2 separate regions of the Homo sapiens genome follow, and region 2 is linked to region 1. The links come from fine-mapping of genetic effects on gene expression. A gene starts in region 1. The other region holds a variant in brackets. All regions are shown on one strand. Distances are between the middles of the regions.

Evidence for each region.
Region 2: its variant is fine-mapped to the expression of TBC1D12 in blood mononuclear cells (TOPMed, PIP 0.95).

Annotation. Positions count from the first base shown.
Region 1 is chr10:94,397,724-94,409,706 of GRCh38, reverse strand. TBC1D12 (TBC1 domain family member 12) reads right to left here and starts at 7,166. Exons shown (of 13, transcript NM_015188.2): 1 at 6,123-7,166. The coding sequence starts at 7,093. RefSeq lists enhancers at 5,659-5,958, 7,259-7,418 and silencers at 6,039-6,368, 6,439-6,928.
Region 2 is chr10:94,359,281-94,371,263 of GRCh38, reverse strand. NOC3L (NOC3 like DNA replication regulator) reads left to right here and starts at 8,325. Exons shown (of 21, transcript NM_022451.11): 1 at 8,325-8,434; 2 at 9,392-9,599. The coding sequence starts at 8,426. RefSeq lists a silencer at 8,122-8,251 and an enhancer at 8,392-8,651. The variant G/A (reference allele first, on the strand shown) is at 5,660.

The DNA of each region.
Region 1 (11,983 bases):
GCTTACAAGTGTGTAGTAAAAAATGTTAATTTGGCCAGATGCGTAGCTCATGCCTATAATCCTAGCACTTTAAAAGGCCAAAGCGGGCAGATCACTTGAGCCCAGGAGTTTGAGACCAATCTGAGAAACATGGCAAAACCCTGTCTCTATAAAAAATACAAAACAAAATTAGCAGGTCGTAGTGGTGCATGCCTGTAGTCTCAGCTACTTGGGAGGCTGAGCTGAAAGGATCAATTGAGCCCAGGAGTCTGAGGCTGCAGTGAGCCGTGCCACCGCATTCCAAGCCTGGATGACAGAATGAGATCCTGTCTCAAAAAAAAAAAAAAAAAAAAGTTAATTTAATTTAGCACTTCAAAGTAATATGTTTGAGTGCTTAAATTATCTTACTTCCACAAAAATCAGAGTTTCTGAATACGTTCTACCTAATTTGTATTCAGGTTATCACATCTCTAATCTGCCAGCTGAATGAAAGCCACAAATTCCTAAGTTGAAGTCCTGAACCAATGCTGGATTTCCGGTGCTTTAGTGTAGGTCCCTAGAGTGTTGTTTTTTGGGGGGTTTTTAAAAGAAAATACGGGATCTGAGGTAGGGGAAGGAGTGACACACAGGGAAAAGATATAAAAGGCTCTTGAGCTAGCTCCCCAATTTAACATAATGGTAGCTTCACAACATTCTAAAATCCTAATAGACTTTTGTGTTTATTCTAGAGCAATTAATTACGTATTATTTTCAGTTTTCCTAAAATTTTAAACATTAATTATAGTAGCACAGTTGATCCTGAACAAAACAGGTTTGAATTCAATAGATTCTTCCTTCATTCTCCTTGTAAATAATTATATCAGAGTATTAAAAAGCTGCCCACTTTGGGGAGCTTTTAAAATCTTTTAAAACATCAGAAGTTTCATATTTTGCCTTTTCTTTAGTGATTTGAGAAAGGAATTTTTTTTGAGAAACTCACTTTGAAACTGTCGTTTTTTATTTTAGTTGACTGGTGGAGGCACTATGGAACAAGTAAGGGAGACTTATAGGACAGAGATGTTTATGATGGCTCAGTCAGATGGATGAATTATGATTTTGTCAACTAGCACAAATTCTAGGTGGAAAAAAGGACGTGGCTGACTTTGTTGTTTCTGAGAACCTTAAATTAAGAAAAAACTATACCTATAGGAATTTAGATTTTTCCATGTCATATTTAATAAAAACAAAAAAACTTCATTGGTTTTCATATTAGGGAGAATGGAGACTATCTAGATGTAAAAAGAAATCACTAAAAGAGCCTTTAGTTTTTCCTACTCAACCCAACCATTGTAAAAAGAGCTCTGTGAAAATAGCTTTTGCCACAATATTTAGGAAGTTTCAGAAGTCAACAACTACAGAGAAAGCCACATGGATCTGTATGTTTCAAAATCTATAAAGTCAATTTTCTTTTCAGATAAAGGGAAAAAAATCTCCAATTATTCCTTCCCTACCTTAGCAATGCCCTTTATTCACCAAATTCATATAAAGACTTGGGAAAAAAAATCAGCACTACCAGGAAACACAGATAAGTGTCTATGTTTTTAAAAACAGTAACTATGCCAATGCAATCCTAACAAGCTTCAAAACTATTAAATGGCCTAAAAACAAACAAACAGAAAACTATGAAAGAGTCTATCTATGTAAAAAATAAACCATTCTACTTAGAAAACAAGACATGAATTTACTTGAAGAACCCACAAAAACGGTTTAGAACTTTTTTTAAGAGACATGGTCTCACTCTGTCACCCAGGCTAGAGTGCAGTGACTCAATCATGGCTCACTGCAGCCTTGAACTCTTGGACTCAGGCAATCCTCCTGTTTCAGCCTCCAGAGTAGCTGGGACTACAGGCATACGCTACCATGCCCAGCTTAGAACTATTTTTTAAAAAGAGTAACAAATGGATCTTTGGGGAATTAAGGCAAGCTTGGAAACACAAAAGACTTCAAAAAAGCTTTCACTCCTCCTTACTGCTGAGTGGTACCCATCTAGCATTTCAACTTTTTTTTTTTTTTGAGACGGAATCTGTCACCCAGGCTGGAGTGCAGTGCCACGATCTCAGCTCACTGCAACCTCCCCCCAGGGTTCTAGCAATTCTCCTACCTCAGCCTCCTTAGTAGCTGGGATTACAGGCACCCACCACCACGCCCAGCTAATTTTTTTGTATTTGTAGTAGAGACAGGGTTTCGCCACATTGGCCAGGCTGGTCTCGAACTCTTGACCTCAGGTGATCCACCCGCCTCAGCCTCCCAAAGTGTTGGGATTACAGGCGTGAGCCACTGCGCCCAGCTGCATTTCAATTTTTATAGACAGGAAAGGGTCAAGGATCTGAGGGAATGTTACTTTTAGGGCTCTGACAGCCAAGTCACCATAAACACAGAAAGGTGTCCATGTGAAGCTGAAGCAAGCCCCCAGTAGGGACTGAAATAGAACTCACCTCATGTGGAAGGGAAGGAAAGTGGGAGATGACCACTAAGGCCCTCCAAATGAAAGCAGTCATATTCTAAATGAATTCCTGTTTTTCCTATATATCTACCAAAATGATGTGTCTTAACATAATACTATGTAGTAATAGATACATTGTGTAAAATGCTCCCCCCTCTTTACTTAAGTAAACATAAAACTGTTTTTTTTTTAAGGTTTCTCGTATAGATTTTTGCCTAATTAAGGGAAAGAGAAGAACGAAGTGGGAAGGGAAGAAGAAGGAAAGCATGGAGGATAAATAGGTGGGAGAGAAAAGAGCCATAAAGTGAACAAAGGTTGTAGACTGAACATAAACATGGATTGGGAAATCAGGAATCCTGGTTTCAAATCCCAGCATGCCACTAGCTAACTAAATTACCTTCTTTAGACAATGAGATTCCTCATCTAAAAAAATGAAGTGGGAGTAAGGGTTGCACCCAAGAACAAGATTCCATCCCAAACAAGCCACTTCCAAAGAGAGCCCTCACCTGGAGCTTCAGAGTTGAGAATAGCAACTATGCATTTAGGGGTAGGGTTGGATCTCTTGGGTTGTGTTGTGAGACAGGGGTAATTTCTGATTATTTTCACTGAGGATGGAGATTCTGCTCAAAATTACACTACCTAGCTAGAGCACAGTAAAAGGGAATCCATGAAAGCTACCTATTCAACCCAATCTGAATGGTGTTCTTCATACCAGTGGCTAGGTATTATAGATTCAGAGATGAATGTCACAGTTCCTGCCTTTAAGGTGTTCAGAATTCATTTAAGAAAAACTGTGCCTCTCTGACTCTGCCCTTTCTTTCCCAAGAATGTCATATAAAGGAAGCACTGACTCCTAGAGTCTTGACATTCAGACCTCTATCAGGAAAAATGAGGCTTAGAGAAATTAACTTTAGGGCACCTGTTTTCTGACTTCAAATCCAGTGCTCTGACACATATGAATAATGTGGCCATATGAATGTCATCTAGCTATATTAAGTTCTATTAGTCTATAAGTAAAAAAAATTTACAAATTAAATCAAAATTCCTGCCTACTTAAAACACATGGGAAATGAAAGAAAAAATAAAATTCCTGCCTACTGTTAATAATATGAAAGCCTCCTATAAATAACATTGTTGGCTGGGGCAGTGGTTCACACCTGTAATCCCAGCACTTTGAGAGGCTGAGGCGGGTGGATCACCTGAGGTCAGGAGTTCAAGACCAGCCTGGCCAACATGGTGAAACCTGGTCTCTACCAAAAATACAAAAATTAGCCAGGCGTGGTGGCGGGTGCCTGTAATCCCAGCTACTTGGGAGGCTGAGGCAGGAGAATCACTTGAACCCAGGGGGGCAGAGGTTGCAGTGAGCCAAGATGGCACCACTTCACTCCAGCCTGGGCAAAAGAGGGAAACTCCATCTCAAAAAAAAAAAAAAATGTTCAGAAATTGCAATGTATATATATGCATCTGTCTTCAAACTTAATCCCCATTAGCCTGCACCCCACCTGCAGGTAAGGGACAGTTTTCTAAATCATCTCTATTCACAATGCATGGCAGAGAGCAAGAACTCAAGAGTATACTAGTTGAATTTGTTATCTCCAAAGCCCCTCCCAGATCTAAAATTGCCTGACATCTGACCTCAAAACATGACCAAGATAGATATGACCAACAAACACCCAAAGGCCACACAGTGTCACAAATTTATAAACCTAACTCACCTTGAGATCTTTTAGAATACTGCCAGTACAAGCTTTAAATATATTTTTGCAACTATATTACAAATACAGATGTCATTACTACATATATTGTCCTGAGTAACAAAAAATTAGGATTTTCCACTTTTGATTTAAGAAACTTTATATTTGTAAATTTATACAAGCAAAAAAATAAGGATAAACTAGAAAGAGGAATAAGAAATATCAATTATAATCAGAAAATTGTGCCTTTATGTCTACAATATGTACGCTAATTGTATAACCTGCTAAAACTTGAGCTAAGAATTTGCTTCTTTCACTTCTGGTTATAGTCAAGATCCCCGAAAAGGTAGAAAAACAAAGTAGGGAGAACTCTGTAAAGGAAAGTTTTACAAGTTGGGAATATTTTCCTATTTGCCTGGGGACTTAAGAAAAAAGAAGAAGAAGAAGAAGAAAAAGGCGTGTCAAAATCTAACTCAAGGAAAACTGCCTTTTTTTTTTTTTTTTTGAGAGAAGTCTAGCTCTTATTCCCCAGGTTTCAGTGCAATGGCTCGATCTCAGCTCACAGCAACCTCCGCCTTCTGGGTTCAAACGATTCTCTTGCCTCTGCCTCCCAAGTAGCTGGGATTAAGTCGCCTGCCAACATGCCCGGCTAATTTTTGTATATTTTAGTAGAGACGGGGTTTCACCATGTTGGCCAGGCTGGTCTCGAACTCTGACCTCAGGTGATCCACCCACCTCGGCCTCCCAAAGTGCTGGGATTACAGGACTGCTCTTACAGTAAGGTGTATTAAGTATTTTCTGACTACTCTTATTTATCCCTATTAAATCAACAAACCTCCATCCTGAAATCTGCGAAGTCCAGCACCATAATTTAATTTCTTTCTTTTCTTTTTTTTTTTTTTTGAAAGACGGAGTTTCGCTCTTGTCCCCCAGGCTGGAGTGCAATGGCACGATCTAGGTTCACTGCAACCTCTACCTCCCAGGTTCAAGTGATTCTCCTGCCTCAGCATCCCGAGTAGCTGGGATTACAAGCACCTGCCACCACGCCTGGCTAATTTTTGTATTTTTAGTAGAAACCGGGTTTCACCACATTGGCCAGGCTGGTCTCGAACCCCTGACCTCAAATAGTCCGCCCGCCTCAGCCTCCCAAAGTGCTGGAATTACAGGCGTGAGCCACCGCGCCCGGCCCATAATTTAATTTCAAGAATATCCTGTCAAATCACAAATACAATACCATTTTTTAAAAAAACTAAAGTTATTGGGGAAAAAAAGGAGAGGCTTATCTGGGAGATTAGAAAAAAGGCTTTCCTTAGTAAAAGCCCTACTTTGGCTTAAAAAGTTGGGATAAAATTCTAAACACCAAACTGCATTTTAATAAAGACCACTGAAACAAACGATTAAACACTATGAAGCACAACCACTTCTAATTTCAAGAATTCCCAAACCACTTGAATGGATTTAGACGCTATGCAAGCACAGCAAATAAACAGCTCTACAAAATGACTTCCTTCTCTCTTTCACAACCACACCCGTACACACATACCGCCTCCCCTCACCACCCCCCCAACAACCTAAATGTTTGTAGTAAAATTTTTAAAAATTGGAGACGGAGATGGTTATCTGCTTTTCCAGAAAAGGCAACTGCATATGTGGCACTAGACAGCTGGCCCAACCTGACTGCTCAGAAGCCAGGTATGAATGGCAGGTACAGCCTCCCGCGGACAAGGCAACAGAAAGACTCGCTGTCCACAGAGCTCACAACTTCTCCTATAGAAACACAAAGCCGACCCAGTTCCTCTTCCTCCAGTGACAAATCAAAGCTAAGTCCTGACGCGTGTGGGGCTGGCACGGAAGCGGCCGACCAAGCTCTCCGCTCCGGCTCCGGCTCCGGCTCCGACTCCCACCAAGACCCCGGCTCCGGCCCCGGCCCCGGACCCGCCCCGAGTCCCATGCAGCCTGCGCTGTACCTGGTGAAGAAGTCCGCGAAGCCGCCACTCCGTCGAGCCCGGGCCGAAGCCCCCGCAGGACCCTGCTCCGCGGCGGGCAAGGGCACCGGCGGCCCCGCCGGGGGCAGGTGATCGCGGGCGCTCTGACCGCGGCTCACCTGGAACGTGTTGCGAGAGTTGAAGTGAATGTCAGAAAAGCCCAGGCGCGGCTCCGCACCCCCATTAGTCCTCTCGGCCGAGGTGGCAGGGGGCGCGCCCTCCTCGGGACCCCCGGCGCCGACTCCCCGCTGCTCTGAGTCCTCGCTACTGCTGCAGCTGCTGGCGGGGCTGTCCCCCGAGTCGCTGCCCGCGCCCTCGGGCTCCTGGGCGTCCGCGGCCACCAGGCAGCAGCTCCGCAGCGGGTCCTCAAGCGGAGAGGCCCAATCGGACGGGCTTCCCGCGCCGTCCGCGTCCTCGTCGCCAGGCCCCTCCAGGCGAAGGCGGCCGTAGGGGCGGCGGCGGCGCGACTCCCGGCCGCCGGCGCGCGCCAGCCCGCGAGCCTCTTCCAGATCGCGACAGTCCCGGCCCGGCAGAAAACCCGAGTCGCCGTTGGTCATGCCTTCGTGCCGCGGCGCGCGGCCATCAGCCACCTCCGCGCCGCGGTGTTTGGAGCCCGAGCCCAGCAGGCAGGCGTCCGATCGTGGGGCTGCCGAGGGCGGCGGGGCGCCGGCCTGGCCAGCGGGGAGCGGACAGTAGCAGAGCCCCGGCTCCAGCTGCTCCCCGGCCGCCGCGAGGTAACGCTGAAGGAGCTGCCGAGGCGGCGTCTCCTCCTCCTCGTCAGCCTCCTCCTCCTCGTCAGCCTCCTCCGGCGGCTCCACAGCGCCGACGCCTCCGCCAAAGCCGCCCGTGGCCCGGATTACCTTCCTGTCCTGGCCCACGGGGTCCGGCGCAGGCACCGGGAGCAACTTGGGGTTTCTTCCCGAGCAGGCTCCGGCATCCTCCGGACCCACCATCTGGGGGTGGGTGGCGGCCGCCCCAGGAGGCAAAGAAGGACTACAGGCGCAGGCTTGGCCAGAGAACAGCTCTGGGTGCTGGGGCCGCGGCGACAGCCGCCGCAACGTTCCCAGACCCACCCCTCCCACCCGCTGGGTCGGACAGTTGCTTGAGGGCGGGCACGCGCCAGGACTCGCGCACGCGCAAAAGTCGGACCGGTCAAGCCCCGACCTGGAGATTCCCCGAACCATAGAGACGGTAGCTAGAGAGACGCAGGCTGCCAATCTAGGATCCGCCATCTGGATGGTGGAAGCTGGTTGGCCCGCTCTAAGCGTGACAGTTCTTACCGAAGCGCGGGTATTGCTCGCTTAGCAAAAATTCACTTGATGTATTTCATTTATGGTAGTAAAATACTCCCATATTTGGGAGGTGTTAGCGTGGGTAAGTCCTTCCAGCTCTAATTGGTCACCAGTCGACTTTACGATTTTTACATCCTTCTCCGGCATCATTGCCACAGTTCAGGGCTTCATCACTTCATCCAGGAGGGTCAACACCCTCCCTTCTTCACTTCATCTAACACAAAAGAAAGATATCCTAAGTTATCTTGCTCACCTAGCACCATGTTTCATCACAGTCCTCTGTTTAAAAGATTATCACCGGCCGGGCGCGGTGGCTCACGCCTGTAATCCCAGCACTTTGGGAGGCCGAGGCGGGTGGATCACAAGGTCAGGAGATGGAGACCATCCTGGCTAACACGGTGAAACCCTGTCTCTACTAAAAATACAAAAAAATTAGCTGGGCATGGTGGCGGGCGCTTGTAGTCCCAGCTACTCGGGAGGCTGAGGCAGGAGAATGGCGTGAACCCGGGAGGCGGAGCTTGCAGTGAACCGAGATCGCGCCACTGCACTCCAGCCTGGGCGACAGAGCGAGACTCCGTCTCAAACAAGAAAAAAAGATTATCACCTAAGGAGGGAGAGGAAGTGGTCAGGCAGAGAGGAGCTATTGAAATAATTCCAGCACTCTGCGATAGTGGATTAAAATGGGATGATTGACCATTGAGTGGAAATGAAGTATATTTAAAGTAAAAGACGAAAGACTTGATAACTGATCAGAAGTGACAGAAGAGAGAGTAACCAATGATTACTACAAAGATATGAGACTGAAACTGATATGGTTTGAAGAAATAGAAAAGTGGATAGGAAAAAAACGATTAATAGGGGAAATACATCTGGTAAAGTAAACGACTGAAAATATCCAGCATATAGAGTTCTAAAACTTGAGTTGGCTGGGCGCAGTGGCTCACGCCTATAATCCCAACACGTTGGGAGGCCGAGGCAGGTGGATCACCTGAGGTCAGGAGTTCGAGACCAGCCTGGCCAACATGGTGAAACCCAGTCCCTACTAAAAATACGAAAAATTAGCTGGGCATGGTGGTGGGCACCTGTAATCCCAGCTACTTGGGAGGCTGAGGCAGGAGAATCGCTTGAACCCGAGAGGCTGAAGTTGCAATGAGCCCAGATCGTACCACTGCACTCCAGCCTGGGCAACAAGAGGGAAACTGTTTCAAATAAATAAATAATAAAACTTGGGTTAGGGTTTAGGTTCAGAGACACAGATTAGGCGTCATCTGTATAATGCAAGTAGGTGGATGAATCATGAGTAACATTACCTAGGAAGAAAGAATAATGATAAGGGTCGGGCACAGACCCAAATGTTTCATTATTTCAGGACAAAAAAGTTGTATTGCAAGAAATTGAAGAGGCATCAGTTGTGGATAAAACGAAGCAGAAAATATAGACCACTCATTCTATAAAAGTATATAGAATATAGACCACTCATTCATTCTAAAAGTATGTTAGTGAATGCAAGAACAGAAAATAGAAGTCGTAGAGGAGACATTATTGTCAAGCATTTAAAATTTATTTCATATAAAAATACCTATACATACAGATATAAGAGGGAATATAACCTTTATATAATAAAATGTCAATAAAATGGGCATGCATGTACCTAACACTCAATTTAAAAAAACATCAAGAGGCCAGGCGTGGTGGCTCACATCTGTAATCCCAGCACTTTGGGAGCCAGAGGCAGGCAGATCACTTGAGGTCAGGAGTTCAAGACCAGCCTGGCCAATATAGTGAAATCCCATCTCTACTAAAAATAAAAGCATAAAATAAAATAAAATTAGCCGGGCGTGGTGGTGGGCGCCTGTAATCCCAGCTACTCAGGAGGCTGAGGCAGGAGAATCGCTTGAACCCAGGAGGCGAAGTTTGCAGTGAGCCAGGATCGCACCACTGCACTCCAGCCTGGGCGACAGAGGGAGACTCTGTCTCAACAAAATAAAAACATCAAGTGTCTTCGAAAATAAGCGTTATTGAAGGCCCTAGGAAAGGACTAAGTGGCAAAGGCATAGTCAGCAATGCATTTATTATCAAGGTATTTCAGAAGGAAAAAATGACTTTCAGGACACGAGTGGAAAAAATATAAAAAGAGAGAAAATATTTGCAAATTGTATATCTGGTAAGAGTGCAGTATCCAGAATAAATAAAGAACTTGTATAAATCAACAACTGAAAAACAACCCAACTAAAAAAATGGGCAAGGGACTTGAATATACATTTCTCCTAAGAAACATATGTTAATGGAATATTAATAAGCATATGAAGTGATGCTCAACATCATTAGTCATTAAGGAAATGCAAATCAAAACTACAATGAGATAGCACTTCACACTCACCAGGATGTCTATAATCAAAAAAATAGAAAACAAATGTTGAAAAGAATGTGGAAAAACTAGAACCTTCATACATTTCTGGTAGAAATGTAAAATGGTGCAGCTTCCATGAAAAACAGTTTGGTAGTTCCTCAATAAGTTAAACATGGAATTACTTATAAGCCAGCAATTTTACTCCTAGGTGTATACCCAAAAGAATTGAAAACAGGTGTTCAAACAAAAATGTTTTACGTGGGTTGGGCACAGTGGCTCATGCCTGTAATCCCAGCACTTTGGAAGGCCGAGGCAGGTGGATCACCTGAGATCAGGAGTTCAACACCATCGTGGCCAACATGGTGAAACCCGATCTCTACTAAAAAAATACAAAGGCCGGGCGTAGTGTCTCACGCCTGTAATCCCAGCACTTTGGGAGGCCGAGGAGGGTGGATCACGAGGTCAGGAGATCGAGACCATCCTGGCTAACACGGTGAAACCCCATCTCTACTAAAAATACAAAAAATTAGCCGGGTGTCGTGGCGGGCACCTGTAGTCCCAGCTACTCAGGAGGCTGAGGCAGGAGAATGGCGTGAACTGGGGAGGCAGAGCTTGCAGTGAGCCGAGATCGCACTACTGCACTCCAGCCTGGGTGACAGAGCAAGACTCCGTCTCGAGGAAAAAAAAAAAATAGCCTGGCTCAGTGGTGCCCGTGCCTTTAATCCCAGCTACTTGGGAGGCTGAGGCAGGGAGAATCGCTTGAACCTGGGAGGTGGAGCTTGCAGTGAGCTGAGATCACACCACTGCACGCCAGCCTGGGCGACAGAGCAAGACTGCGTCTCAAAAAAAAAAAAAATGTTTTACATGAATGTTCACAGCAGCATTACCAATAATAACCAAAAGGTGGAAACAACCCAAATGTCCATCATCAGGGGAACTGATAAACAAAATATGGTATATCCATGCAACCAAATATTACTCAGACGTGAAAAAGAAAAGAAATACTGATTCATGCTACAAGGTGGATGAATGTGAAAAGCACTGTGGTGGTGTGTACCTGGATAGTCCCAGCTACTCGGGAGGCTGAGGTGGGAGGATCTCTTGATCCGAGAAGTTCAAGATCATAGTGAACTATGATTATGCCTGTGAATAGCTGCTGCATTCCAATCTGGGCAACATGGCAAGACCCCATCTCTTAAAAAAAAATAGATAACATATAATTCCATTCCTATGAAATATCCAGAATAGATAAATCCATAGAGACAGAAAGCAGATTGGTGATTATCAATGACTGAGGGAAAAGACAAATAGAGAGTGACTATCTAATGGATATAAAGGTTTTTGGGAGTATAAAATGAATTGAATGAAAATGAGGTGAACAGGCACGTATTTTGAAACTAGATAGAGGTGATAGTTGTTCAACTCTGTGAATGTACTAAATGCCATTGAATTGTACACTTTAAAATCGTTAATTTTATATTAGGCAAATTTCACCTCAAGTGTAAAAAAGCAATATAGAAGATGTCTGGACAATTTTTATTTTTATGTACACATATTTTGATACTAGCTGGACAAGGTGGCACGTTCCTGTAATCCCAGCTACTCAGGAGGCTGAGAGGCACAAGAACCACTTGAACCTGGGAGGTGGAGGCTGCAGTGAGCTGAGATCATGAATAAGTTAGGAAATGTTTGACAGCAGAAAGAAAATTGCAAGATAAATTCTTTAGGCAAACGACAAAGGTTGAAAAGATAAAAGATTGAGATTAGACTCCTGCAGCTACCCTCATTTTTACCATCGTATTACAATCCTTATGTCCAGACATCTCGTATATTGTTTTTTTACACGAGGTGAAATTTGCATAATATAAAATTAACCATTTTAAAGTGTACAATTCAATGGCATTTAGTACATTCTGTTTTGTAAAGCAGTGGAATGTACAATTTTTATAAGACTATGCGAATTGGTTTGCTACTGAAATCTTCAACTTCTGTAAATAGTTTAAATTCCATGCGTGCCTGGTAAAACCCCAGCTGGTAAGAGAGGGTGACTAGACTAAGGTTGCAGATTATAGTTAGATAACAAGTACTGAAAGGATGCCTACTGCAGATTAACTCAGCAGGGTGAGATATGTGTGGGAAATGAATGATAGTAAGATCACGAGGCAGCTGCTGTTTGGTAAGCCATAGTGGGACTGCCACAA
Region 2 (11,983 bases), 38 kb after region 1:
ATGCCTGGCTAATTTTTGCGTTTTTAGTAGAGATGGGGTTTCTCCATGCTGGCCAGGCTGGTCTTGAACTCCTGACCTCAGGTGATCCACTTCCCTTGGCCTCCCAAAGTGCTGGGATTATAGGTATGAGCCACTGAGCCTGGCTTGGAGCACAGAGTATTATTAATAAAATAAGTAGGTAAACAATTAGCGGGGTATGGTGGTGTGCACCCATGGTCCCAGGTACTCTGGAGGCTGAAGTAAGAGGATCACTTGAGCCCAGGAGGTCAAGGCTGCAGTGAATCATGATTGAGCTGCCGCACTCCAGCCTGGGCAACAGAGTAAGAGCTTGTCTCAAAATAAAAATAATAAATAATAGTAAATTTAAAAAATAAAATAAGTAGGACTGGCATTGTGGGAGGTGTGAGGATGATATACATGATACCTTAGATGTTAGTTTATTTGATAGTTTCCTTCCCATTCAGCTATACTTCCCAGCAGCTTTGGAATAGAGACCTAGAGACAATACATCCTTGTTTTACAGAACGTTCTTTCACAGCGAGCTCCTAGCAGAGTCTGGTACAGAGTGGAGGGTGAAAAACTATTGCTGCTCAAAGGACTATCAGAAACTGTGCATGACTTTGTGCATGGCATCCACTTTTCCTTCCCTAGGGATTTTGAAAGACAATGAATAAATAAAGAATGGCTTTGAACAATCAATGTAAGTAAAGAAACAGGAAATGTCATTTCTTAGCTTAATTTATCAACAAACATCTTAAATAAAAAAGAACATGTATCACAACCCTAGGAAAATCCCTCTAAAATTTTTCCCTGACCATAATATTGCAGATTAGGAAAACAGCTTAAGGCATTTGATCCCTTTTGTTGGAAAACTATTCCCACTAGCAGGACTGGCATCTTGTTATGTTTCCCATCTGGTGTAAACACAAACTTGGCCACACTGTAATATCTAATCCTGTAATTCATTAATTAAATAAAAACAAATTAAACACAGCTAATATTTATATCATAAGATTATTGAGGATTCAATGAAATAATTCATATCTAGGGAAACATAAAAATTACCTAAATAAGTGGTACGCTGGGGTCCTCTGAATTTGATCTTGAGTTGAATCGTGTCCCCCCTCCAAAAAAAAAAAGATATGTTGAAATCCTAATCCTTGGTAACTATGAACATCATCTTATTTGGAAAGGTCTTTGCAGATGTAATAAAGTTAACATGAGGTCATTAGGGTGGGCCCTTAATCCAATATGACTAGTATCCTTATAAGAGGGGAAGACAGACATGTGAAGACAGAGGGACACATGGAGAATAATATGTAAAGATGGGGGCAGAGATTGGATTGATGCATCTACAAGCCAAAGATTGCCAAGGATTGCCAGCTGTCACCAGAATCCAGGACAGAGGCATGGAACAGATTCTTCCTCAGAGCCCTAAACATAAACAAACAATGCCAACATCTTGATTTTAGACACCTTGCCTCCAGAGCTGTGAGATAATACATTTTGGTTGTTTTAACCCACCCAATTTTTGGTTCTTTTTTACGGCAGCCCAAGGAAACAGATACATAAGGACTTGAGTGCAAGTGGTTTATTTTGAAGGTGAGTCCAGGAACCATTTCTAGCAGGGTGGGGTTGTGAGGCAGGGAAGCAAAGGACACTAATAGTGTGTGCTGATGAGTAGGATATCTCTGCAGGTGGAACTCAATCTTTGGGAGACAAAGTGGAAGATGTCTTAGAGCAGGGGTCCCCAACCCTGGGACCACAGACCTGTACCAGTCCGCGGCCTGTTAGGAACTGGGCTGTACAGCAGGAGGTGAGCGGCAGGTGAGTGACATTACTGCCTGAGCTCCGCCTCCTGTCAGATCGGTGGAGGCATTAGATTCTCATAGGAGCTTGAACCCAACTGTGAACTGCACATTTGAGGGATCTAGGTGGGACGCTCCTTATGAGAATCTAACTAATGCCTGATGATCTGAAGTGGAACAGTTTCTTCCTGAAACCATCCCCCACCCTGATCTGTGGAAAAATTATCTTCCTCAAAACCCGTCCCTGATGCCAAAAAGGCTGGGGAGCGCTGCCTTAGAGGTGTTCTACCTCTGAGGATTAAGGACATTGGTATGTTTTTGTTATATTTTATTGGTATATTAGCTTTCTATGGCTGCTGTAACAAATCATCACAAATTTGGTGGCTTAAAACACAGAAATTTATTCTCTCACAGTTCTAGAGGCTGCAAGTCTGAACTTAATATCACTGGACTGAGCTCTAGGGGAGAGTTTGTTCTTTATCTCTTCCCCTTTCTGGTGGCTGCTAGAATTCCTTGACTTGTCTACATCACTCCAATCTCTGCCTATTGTAGTCACATTACCTTCTTGTCTGTCTGTGTGAAATCTCCTGTCTCTTAAATGGATTCATGTGATTGCCCACTTGCATAATCATTTCATCTCAAAATCTTTAACTTAATCACAACTTTGCCTGTATAAGTTAATATTCATGTTTCCAGGGACTTAGCCTTCATATATTTGGAAGTCATGTTTCAGCCTACCACAATTGCTATAGTTATCCTTCAATTACCATTTGTTGTTGATTGAGGATGCTTCCAGTGGAAAAATCTGTGGCACTTCAGACCTGCCCTACAGGGGTCCAGAAAAAGTCCTTAAGTGAAAATTTGCAAGTGCTCAGAGGACTTTTTCAGCATGTATGGAACACGAAGTACTGAGGATATGTAGACGAGACACCAACAACATTTGTGTAGGGCCCCCAGGAGACCTCCCGCACAGCCCCTTGCGGCTTTCTTTCTGTGTCCTGAATAAAAAATTAGAGTGCCTTGACTGCTCTGTGACCTAGCCATCTGCAGGTTCATCCCAGCAGGCTTCAACACAAACTGGGGCTTTGAACAGTCCCAGGCACTGGTAAAAGTATCTAAGTTGTTGCCCAAAACACTGAAAGTACTGGCTCAGGCCCTGAGTCACATACCTTAAACCCTCATATAAACTCCGTACCCTGACCCCCTCACTGTGGACATACCTAGGTCCACACCCCTTTTCTCTCACTGTCCATCATGAGGATTGCCACAGCACTCTGTAGGTAAGTTCTCCTAACAATTGTTTTGGGTTGATCACCCCGGCATTTAATGCTTCTTTCGGCCAGGCACAGTGGCTTACGCCTGTAATCCCAGCACTTTGGGAGGCCGAGGCGGGCGGATCACCTGAGGTTGGGAGTTCGAGACCAGCCTGACCAACATGGAGAAACCTTGTCTCTACTAAAAATACAAAATTAGCCGGGCATGTTGGCACATGCCTGTAATCCCAGCTACTCAGGAGGCTGAGGCAGGAGAAGCACTTGAACCCGGGAGGCGGAGGTTGAGGTGAGCTGAGATCGTGCCATTGCGCTCCAGCCTGGGCCACAAGAGTGAACTCTGTCTCAAAAAAAAAAAAAAAAAAAAATGCTTCTTTCTATGGCATCCCAACTGGGGGCCTTTTCTCAAGACAGTTTGGGACACACCGTTGTGGGAACTTCCCTGTCGCTGCTTTTGTTTGTTTTTGAGATGGAGTCTTGCTCTGTTGCCCAGGCTGGAGTGCAGTGGTGAGATCATAACTCACTGAAGCCACTAATTCCTGGCCTACCACTGCTTTTGGGGTGATTCAAGCTGTGGGTTCAGCAGGACAAAAAATCTGCTACATCATTATTCTAATGTTTGCTATTATTTTGGTTTTTGGTTAATACTTTTAATTTAATAATTAATTATAATTATTAGCTATCTTAACCTAATTTTCTGATGCACCACAATATAAATTATTTGTACTACCTGAGTGACCTTGCTTAGAACAAATTATACCATCTATTTAAACTTTGTCCTTTCTCCTGTTCTCATTTAGGTATACATTGCTCTATGACTTCCTCTAAAGCAGCTTGTCTTTATTTTTTAGCACCTATGTGATCTTTTCTATTATTCTCTATTTGGTAATTCATAATTATCATTCTCAACTACACACAAACACACACACACACACACACACAATTTCTCAACAATATTTTAACATTTTCAAAGGTAGAGACCATGATATACGTATTTTCAAATCCTTTCTTTTTTTTTTTTTTTGCGATAGCCTCACTCTGTCGCCCAGGCTGGAGTGCAGTGGCACCCTCATAGCTCACTGTAGCCTTGAACACGTGGCCTCAAATAATCCTCCTGCCTCAGCCTCCCAAAGTGCTGGGATTACAGGCAGGAGCCACAATGCCTGGACAGTAATATCTAAATATTACTTAAATATTACAGTTATGTTTTTTTAGCTCTCTGATAGTGAGTTGTTTTTTTTTCCCCTTGGCTGTAGCACTATCTCAAAGGTCTGAACAGAGATTCTAGACTCCTTCCCTCCCCTGGATTTTATTTTACTTTAGTTTAGTTTTGTTTTTGTTTCCCCTGAATTTTAGGAAGGGAAACAGAAAGAGGCCTAGGCAGAGCCAAGCACTTCGACATAAGGGAGGACTGTATATTGTACAATTCCAGGGGCGTCATTCACAGTTTATTTGTAAAGATAGCAAACTTTTTTTTTTTGATCTATGACAGTGAAGTGTCTTAAGGACATGGAAGCTTTTTCTAATTTCCACAGGTCCCCTTTGGGTGAGCTGTAGGGCAACCTGCCTGCCTCTTTTATGTCTAAGATGATTGACAGTGATAACATCCAATTACGATGTTTATTTTCTAATTTGTGATACTGAAGTGTGGGCTTTTTCTATCGCCAAACACTTACTACAAAGTGACAAACATTCATATAGTCCCTTATTATAACTTATGTAAATTATCTTGTGGTACTGGAAAAAAAGAAGCCTTGTTTATTATTCCATGTCCACTTAGTGACAGTTTTCAAAACTGTTTGTTTATAGAAAATGGATTAATTATAATACGGTAAATGGCCAAGAAAGCCCTTGCTTGTTGACAAAGATCTCTGGAGTATTTGGGATTCTAGCTGTGGGTAAAAGAAAGAAATAGGGAATGTTACAAGAGGTACAAGTGAAAAAAAATAGTTCTTTTGAACATGGTAATGTGAAGTCCCATGGTTAGGAGGTAGAGCTGTCCAGGAGGCAGATGGCTATAAGAATGAAGCTTGGGGAAGAAGTATAGGCTGGACAAAATCTCTTTGTAATAGGTAGATGGATGAAATCACGCTGGAAAAGCAAGTAGAGCAAGAAGAGTGGTAGACAAGTGGGCCAAGAGTAGAACCCTGAGAGTCACCTACATTGAAGAAGCCTAAGGAGGAAGAAATGGAGGTAGGAGGAGAACCTGGGGAACAGGCTATTAGGAAAGCCAAGGGAATCAACATTCTAATGTGTGAAGGGAGATACGCGTAGCATCAAAGGCAGCAGAGAGATCTAGTGAGGTTAAATGAGAAAGAAGTAATGTAATTCCGTACACAATTAGAAAAAACTCACAACACTTTGGAGGTTCTTGGTGACCTTAATTAGATCAGTTTCAGCGGAATGTTATGGGCAAAGCCACGTAAGTTCTTAACAGACTTCCTGAAAGTGCTAACAGGAATCTCCAGGTACAATCCCTGTGATACTAGTTTGGGAAAGCCCAGTGACCCTTATCAGCTCAAGTGTCCAGGAAAGCTCTAAGGGATCTAAGAGGATCTGGAGTCCAAATGGGGCTTGGCA[G/A]TGGATTGAGTGAAGAAGAGATGACACAAAGGTGGACACACAGAATTAAGAAACCAGCAAGATTAAATGGAATTAAAAGGAATCATATAAACTTCCATTTTTGAGTATTTTCGAACAACAGGCTGCTCGAATTCAAGATGGGAGAGATTTAGCTTGGCAACAATTGCTTTAAAATGATCCAGAGATTTTAGTTGATTGTAAACTTAAAATGGGCCAAGAGTATGACACAGTTCTTAAAAAAGCTAGCACATGCTGGGCATGGTGGCTCATGCCTGTAATCCCAGCACTTTGGGAGGTTGAGGTGGGAGGACTGCTTGAGCCCAGGAGTTTGAGACCAGCCTAGGCAGTATAGCAAGACCAAATCTCTGCAAATAATATAAATTAGCCGGGCATGGTGGTGCGTGCCTGTAGTTTCAGCTACCCAGGAAGCTGAGGTGGAGGATCCCTTGAGCCTGGGAGGTTGAGGCTGCAGTGAGCTGAGAGCTGCCACTGCACTCCAGCCTGGGCAACAGAGAAAAAAAATAAAAAAAGGCAATCTTTATATTAAAAAAGAAAATACTAGCACAGGATTGGGCTATGACAATAGAGAAGAGAAAGTGGAGACGCTAAAAGAATACTTTTTTCTGGAAGTAGGGACAAGTAGGAAAAGAGGCACATAAAAGAGCAATTAAAGGGAGATAAGTTTATTAGAACAAATCTTAAAAATGGAAGAGATTTGAATATGTTTATAAGCTGAGGGGAAGGATCTATTAGAGAGGGAAAGAACACAGGAAAGAAGGGATAATTAATGATACAAGAATCTGATGAAGCTGGGAGGAGTTGGTTTTGAACTGGAATGGGGATGCCTCATCCTTGGAGAGACTGGAAGGAAGGCTAAAAGGATGGGAGTGACTGTAGATATGTTGATATGCTTGGGAGGGAATTCAGGCACTTGGGAAGAGCACAGGCTGATGTTTTCCACTTGTTTGATGAAGTAATACTCCAGCGGGACAGGCTCTGCTGTTTCTGACACTGTGTGGAAGGAGACAGAGCAAGGAAGAAGTTGGAAGGGAGGTTGAAAGAAGAGTGCCAGATGGACCTCTTGGTCTTTGTGGTGGGATCAGGAAATTGGTACTTTTTTCCCTCAGTCTCTCTAAGAGCAACACTATTCAAGGGGCTCAGAACCCTTTGAGCCGCACTACTGGGTTTTCCCACCTGCTCAGGACTGCGAGGCCAGACTCTGTGTCAGGGCCATGCTCAAAAATCATAGACTCAAAAAAACCCACAAAAAACTTGAAGTGGAATGCTTAAATTTATTGAGAAAAAAAAGTCTTTGAGAGACAAGCACTTTGATACTCTTATTCTTGCAATCCATAAAACTTCCTGTAAAAATGAACGACTTTAGGCGGGGCGCGGTGGCTCATGCCTGTTATCCCAGCACTTTGGGAGGCCAAGGTGGGCGAATCACGAGGTCAGGAGATCGAGACCATCCTGGCTAACACGGTGAAACCCCGTCTCTACTAAAAATACAAAAAAAATTAGCTGGGCGTGGTGGCGGGCGCCTGTAGTTCCAGTTACTCGGGAGGCTGAGGCAGGAGAATGGCGTGAACCCAGAAGGCAGAGCTTGCAATGAGCCCAGATTGCGCCACTGCACTCCAGCCTGGGCGCCAGAGCAAGACTCCGTCTCAAAAAACAAAAACAAAAAACGACTTTGGTGAAATTACTAAGCAGACAGAATTTACCCAAAGTTGTAAGATACTGAAATGCAGATACAGTTTTTTATTTTTATTTTTATTTTTTAGACAGTCTTGCTCTGTCACCCAGGCTGGAGTGCAGTGGTGTGATCTCGACTCACTGCAACCTCTGCCTCCTGGGTTCAAGCGATTCTCCTGCCTCAGCCTCCCGAGTAGCTAGGATTACAGGCGCACGCCACCATGTCTGGCTGATTTTTGTATTTTTAGTAGAGACAGGGTTTCACCATGTTGGCCAGGCTGGTCTCGAACTCCTGGAACTCAGGTGATCCACCCGCCTCTGCCTCCCTAAGTGCTGGGATTACAAGCGTGAACCACCGCACCCAGCCATGGATACAGTTCTTTATCAGCTAATGGTTAAAAATTAAAGCAAAAAAAAAATGCAAAATAAAACACTAAGAATCACAGACTTTTAAGTGACCAAGGCTGATGAGAAATCATTCGCCATGCTACAAACACGGCCAGAATGTCCGTCGAGGGGCAGGCATTACACACAAAAAATAAGCTTCTTTCTGCCCTCAGGACTGTATGGAGGAAAAAGACTACGAAAATCAGTATCTATAACAGCATGAGATAAGCAACGTGAGGAGAGGCACAAAATGCAATGAGGTGACCGAAAAAACCAAGTCCTCTCATTCTGAGAGGAGGAGCCCGATTTCCCCAAGGTTTTAAAAGAAATAAATAGGGCGAGAGTCAAAGAATCATACTCAGATAACCTTGCAAAATGCGCCCCTCCCGCCCGGCTTCCCGCCTTTGGCACCGACGCCCTCGGGGCTTCCCTCGTGCCAGTCCGCGCGCGCACGCCGGGGGGCAACCGGTCCAGGGCCGCGAGACAGTCACCGCGAGAGGGCGCGAGCCCGAACCTGTCTACGGAAGTCCCGCCCTCACTTCCGGCGGCGGAGGATTGGGAGGGACTGAAGGCCGTTTCCGGCTCTGGTAGTGTAGGGACTTCGGCACGTGTGTCATTCCCCGGGATTTCTGTAGTAACCCTGCTTCTGGTGAACTTGTCTGGCCGGCATTCATTTAAGGCCTAAGGATGAAGGCGGTAAGTGTCCTCAAAAGCCCGGTCGCCGCGGCCTAGGGCCCCTTCGGGTGATAGAGTCACTGCCTGAGTTAGCTTTTAGGCAGGTTTTCACCCGTGTCTAGGGGGCGGTGGTTTAGACTGGGGGCTTTCCATTCCTTACACCGAGCTCATCCTTGGTTACCCACTGTGTGCGCGCACCACTTCAGAGTATCACGAAGAGACAGGCACGGAGTTTTGCATGCGTGGGATTTCATACTTTGAAGGAATTTTTCAAGACCGTCTTTCGAACTCGTTTTTCACAAATGAGAAGCAGGGTCCTACCCTCAGCGAGTTTATAATGTGAGTCACGGTACCCATGAAGGGTAAAGAGATAGAAAAGCAAGTGATTTGTCCTGGTTCTCCCAGAAAATAAGAGGTAGTCCTGGGGTTCAGGACTAACTTTGGGATTTCTGAATGAGTCACCAGCAAGAGAAGTGGAATCCAAAGATCCGAATTCAGTTTTGCCCTCCTTAGTTTATGGGTCTTTTGGCAGCTTCATCAGTAATGTGAGGATAACAGCAGTCAGTACTCAACTAGGCTGTTAGAGGTGATTTGTTGGAGCACTTTGTAAGTAATAAAATCGTAGATAAATGTAAGTTTTATTAAAGACAGCCAGCATTTTGCTTTGAATGTGTTAAACTACAGGTGTGTTAAACTAGCCTTGAATAGCCACTTACCACTACTAGATCAGTGGTTCTTAACCTGTTTGGGGATCGTAGAACCCTTTGAATTGCTGTGAATTGGGATTGAATAACTGATGCTGTAGCGCTCTTCTGTAGGATTAAAGCCATCGTTTGGTTTTAGCTTTTATATGCAAGTCTGTGGCTGTGGGACATTGAAATTGTGGAATTGGTCTAATGAAATTTGTAATCAGTTCTCTTTAACCTGATTTAAAAAATAAGTTTCTGGGTATGCAGTATTCTTTCTGTTATTTTCTAGAGAAGAAATAAAAAACAGATCCCAAGCTTTCGCAAGTTAATAAAAACTAGTAAAGTCAAACTTGAAAACAAGCTAAAAAATAAGCAGTTTAAACAACAAAGCACTCTCAAGAAGTACCGAAAAGAACAGAGGAAACTAAGGCAAGCTGTGAAAGATGCTGTGTCTAAGAAACCCATTCCATTGGAGAACCCAAAGGAAAAGCGACCAGGTAATTGTGAAAACATCATGTGCTCTGGTTTCCATTGATTTATTCTGAAGTGTTCTTCATGGAAATAACTTTGCTTTCTAGTAATCGCTTTTCTTGTTCTCAGATCTTCCTAGAGTGGGTAAGGATAGTAGTCCTATAGGACTGCTATAAAGCATATATGCTTTATCACAGTCAGTATGAGAAAACATTTCAATACAGTATTCATTCAAGCTTCTGCTTTTAGTTTGTCTGGAAGGCAGATCTGAAGATGCACTACTTGGGAAAACAAACTGAAAGTACTCCGTTACATAAATATTGGGCAGTGTGCCAGTGCTGCCACTTTGCCATTCACCAGCAGTTAGGTAAGGTAAGAACATTGCTTGTCTCTGGTTCATTCTTCACAGTATTGCCAAGGTACACTTCTAAACTTCTGACTTTCTTTTCATGTGGAAACTTGGGGTGAAATTGAGTTGTAATTGTCATGGTTATTTTGTAAAACTATCTAAAAATTATTAAGTACTCAAAACTTGTAAGGAATATGACTATTTTGAGTCAGGCTAGTTCTACAACTTTGCTGGTACTTTTAGGGTATTCTTATTTGACTATATCAGATTATTAGACAACTATTCAGTCTTCTCAGGTCCATTTTTTAAAAATTATTATTATTATTTTAAATAGACAGGGTCTTGTTCTGTCACCCAGGCTGGAGTGCAGTGTGCAAAAATAGCCCACTACAGCCTTGACCTCCTGGGCTCAGGCAGTCCTCCTGCTTCAGCCTCCAAAAGTGCTGGAATTGCAAGGGTGAGCCACAGCACCCAGCTAAAGTTTTTTTTTTTTCTAATTTTGTGGGTACATAGTAGGTGTATATATTTATGGGATACATGAGGTACTTTGATACAGGCATACAATGCATAATAATCACATCAGAGTAAATGTGGTATCCATCACCTCAAGCATTTATCTTTGTGTTACGAACAATCCAGTTATACTTTTTTAGTTATTTTAAAACATAAAATAAATTATTGTTGACTATAGTCATCCTATCTATCAAATACTAGATCTTTTTCTAAGTGTATTTTTGTACCCATTAACCATCCCTACTCCTATCTCCTCCAACTGCCTTTCCCAGCCAGTGGTAACCATCATTCTACTCTCTTCATGAGTTCAGTTGTTTTAATTTTTAGCTACCACAAATAAGTGAGAACATGTGAAATTTGTCTTTCTGTGCCTAGCTTGTTTAACTTAGCATAATGGCCTTTAGTTTCATCCATGTTGTTGCACACAGGATCTCATTCTTTTTTGTGGCTGAATAATACTACATTGTGTACATGTACCATATTTTCTTTTATTATTATTATTATTATTTTTTTTGAGATGGAGTCTCTCTCTGTTGCCAGGCTGGAGTGCAGTGGCACGATCCCGGCTCACTGCAACCCCCGACTCCCCAGTTCAAGTGATTCTCCTGCCTTAGCCTCCCGAGTAGCTAGGATTACAGGCGCACACCACCACATCTGGCTGATTTTTGTGTTTTTAGTAGAGCCGGGGTTTCACCATGTTGGCTGGGATGGTCTTGATCTCCTGATCTCGTGATCTGCCCGCCTTGGCCTCCCAAAGTGCTGGGATTACAGGCGTGAGCCACCGCGCCTGGCCCCGTATTTTCTTTATCCATTCATCTGTTTATGAACACTTAGGTTGTTTCCAAATCTTGGCTCTTGTGGATAGTGCTGAATGAACATGGGAGTGCAGATATCTGTTCGGTATACTGATTTCTTTTTTTTGGATTCATGCCTGGCAGTGGGTGGGATTGATGGATTATATAGTAGTTCCATTTTTAGTTTTAGTTTTTTGAGGAACTTCCAAACTTTTCTCCATAGTGGTTGTGCTAATTTACATTCCCACCAAGAGTGTATGAGAGTTCCCTTTTCTCTACATCCTTGCCAGCATTGTTACTGCCTGTCTTTTGGATAAAAGCCTTTTTAACTAGGATGAGATGATATCTCATTGTAATTTTGATTTACATTTCCCTGATGATCAATGATGTTGAGCACCTTTTCATATACCTGTTTGCCATTTGTATGTCTTCTTTTGAGAAATGTCTATTCATATCTTTTGCCCATTTTTTAATGGGATTATTAAATTTAGAAGGCTCATTTAAAGTAGATAGGAGTGCCATTCTGTGCAGTGTGTACATTTATATAGCAAGATTTACTAGGGTCTTTTTTTGTTTTTTTTTTTGAGACGGAGTTTCACACTTGTTGCCCAGGCTGGAGTTCAGTGGCGATTTCTGCTCTGCTCATTGCAATCTCTGCTCTGCTCATTGCAATCTCTGCCTACGGGATTCAAGTGATTCTCCTGCCTCAGCTTCCCAAGTAGCTAGGATTACAGGCATGTGCCACCACGCCTCA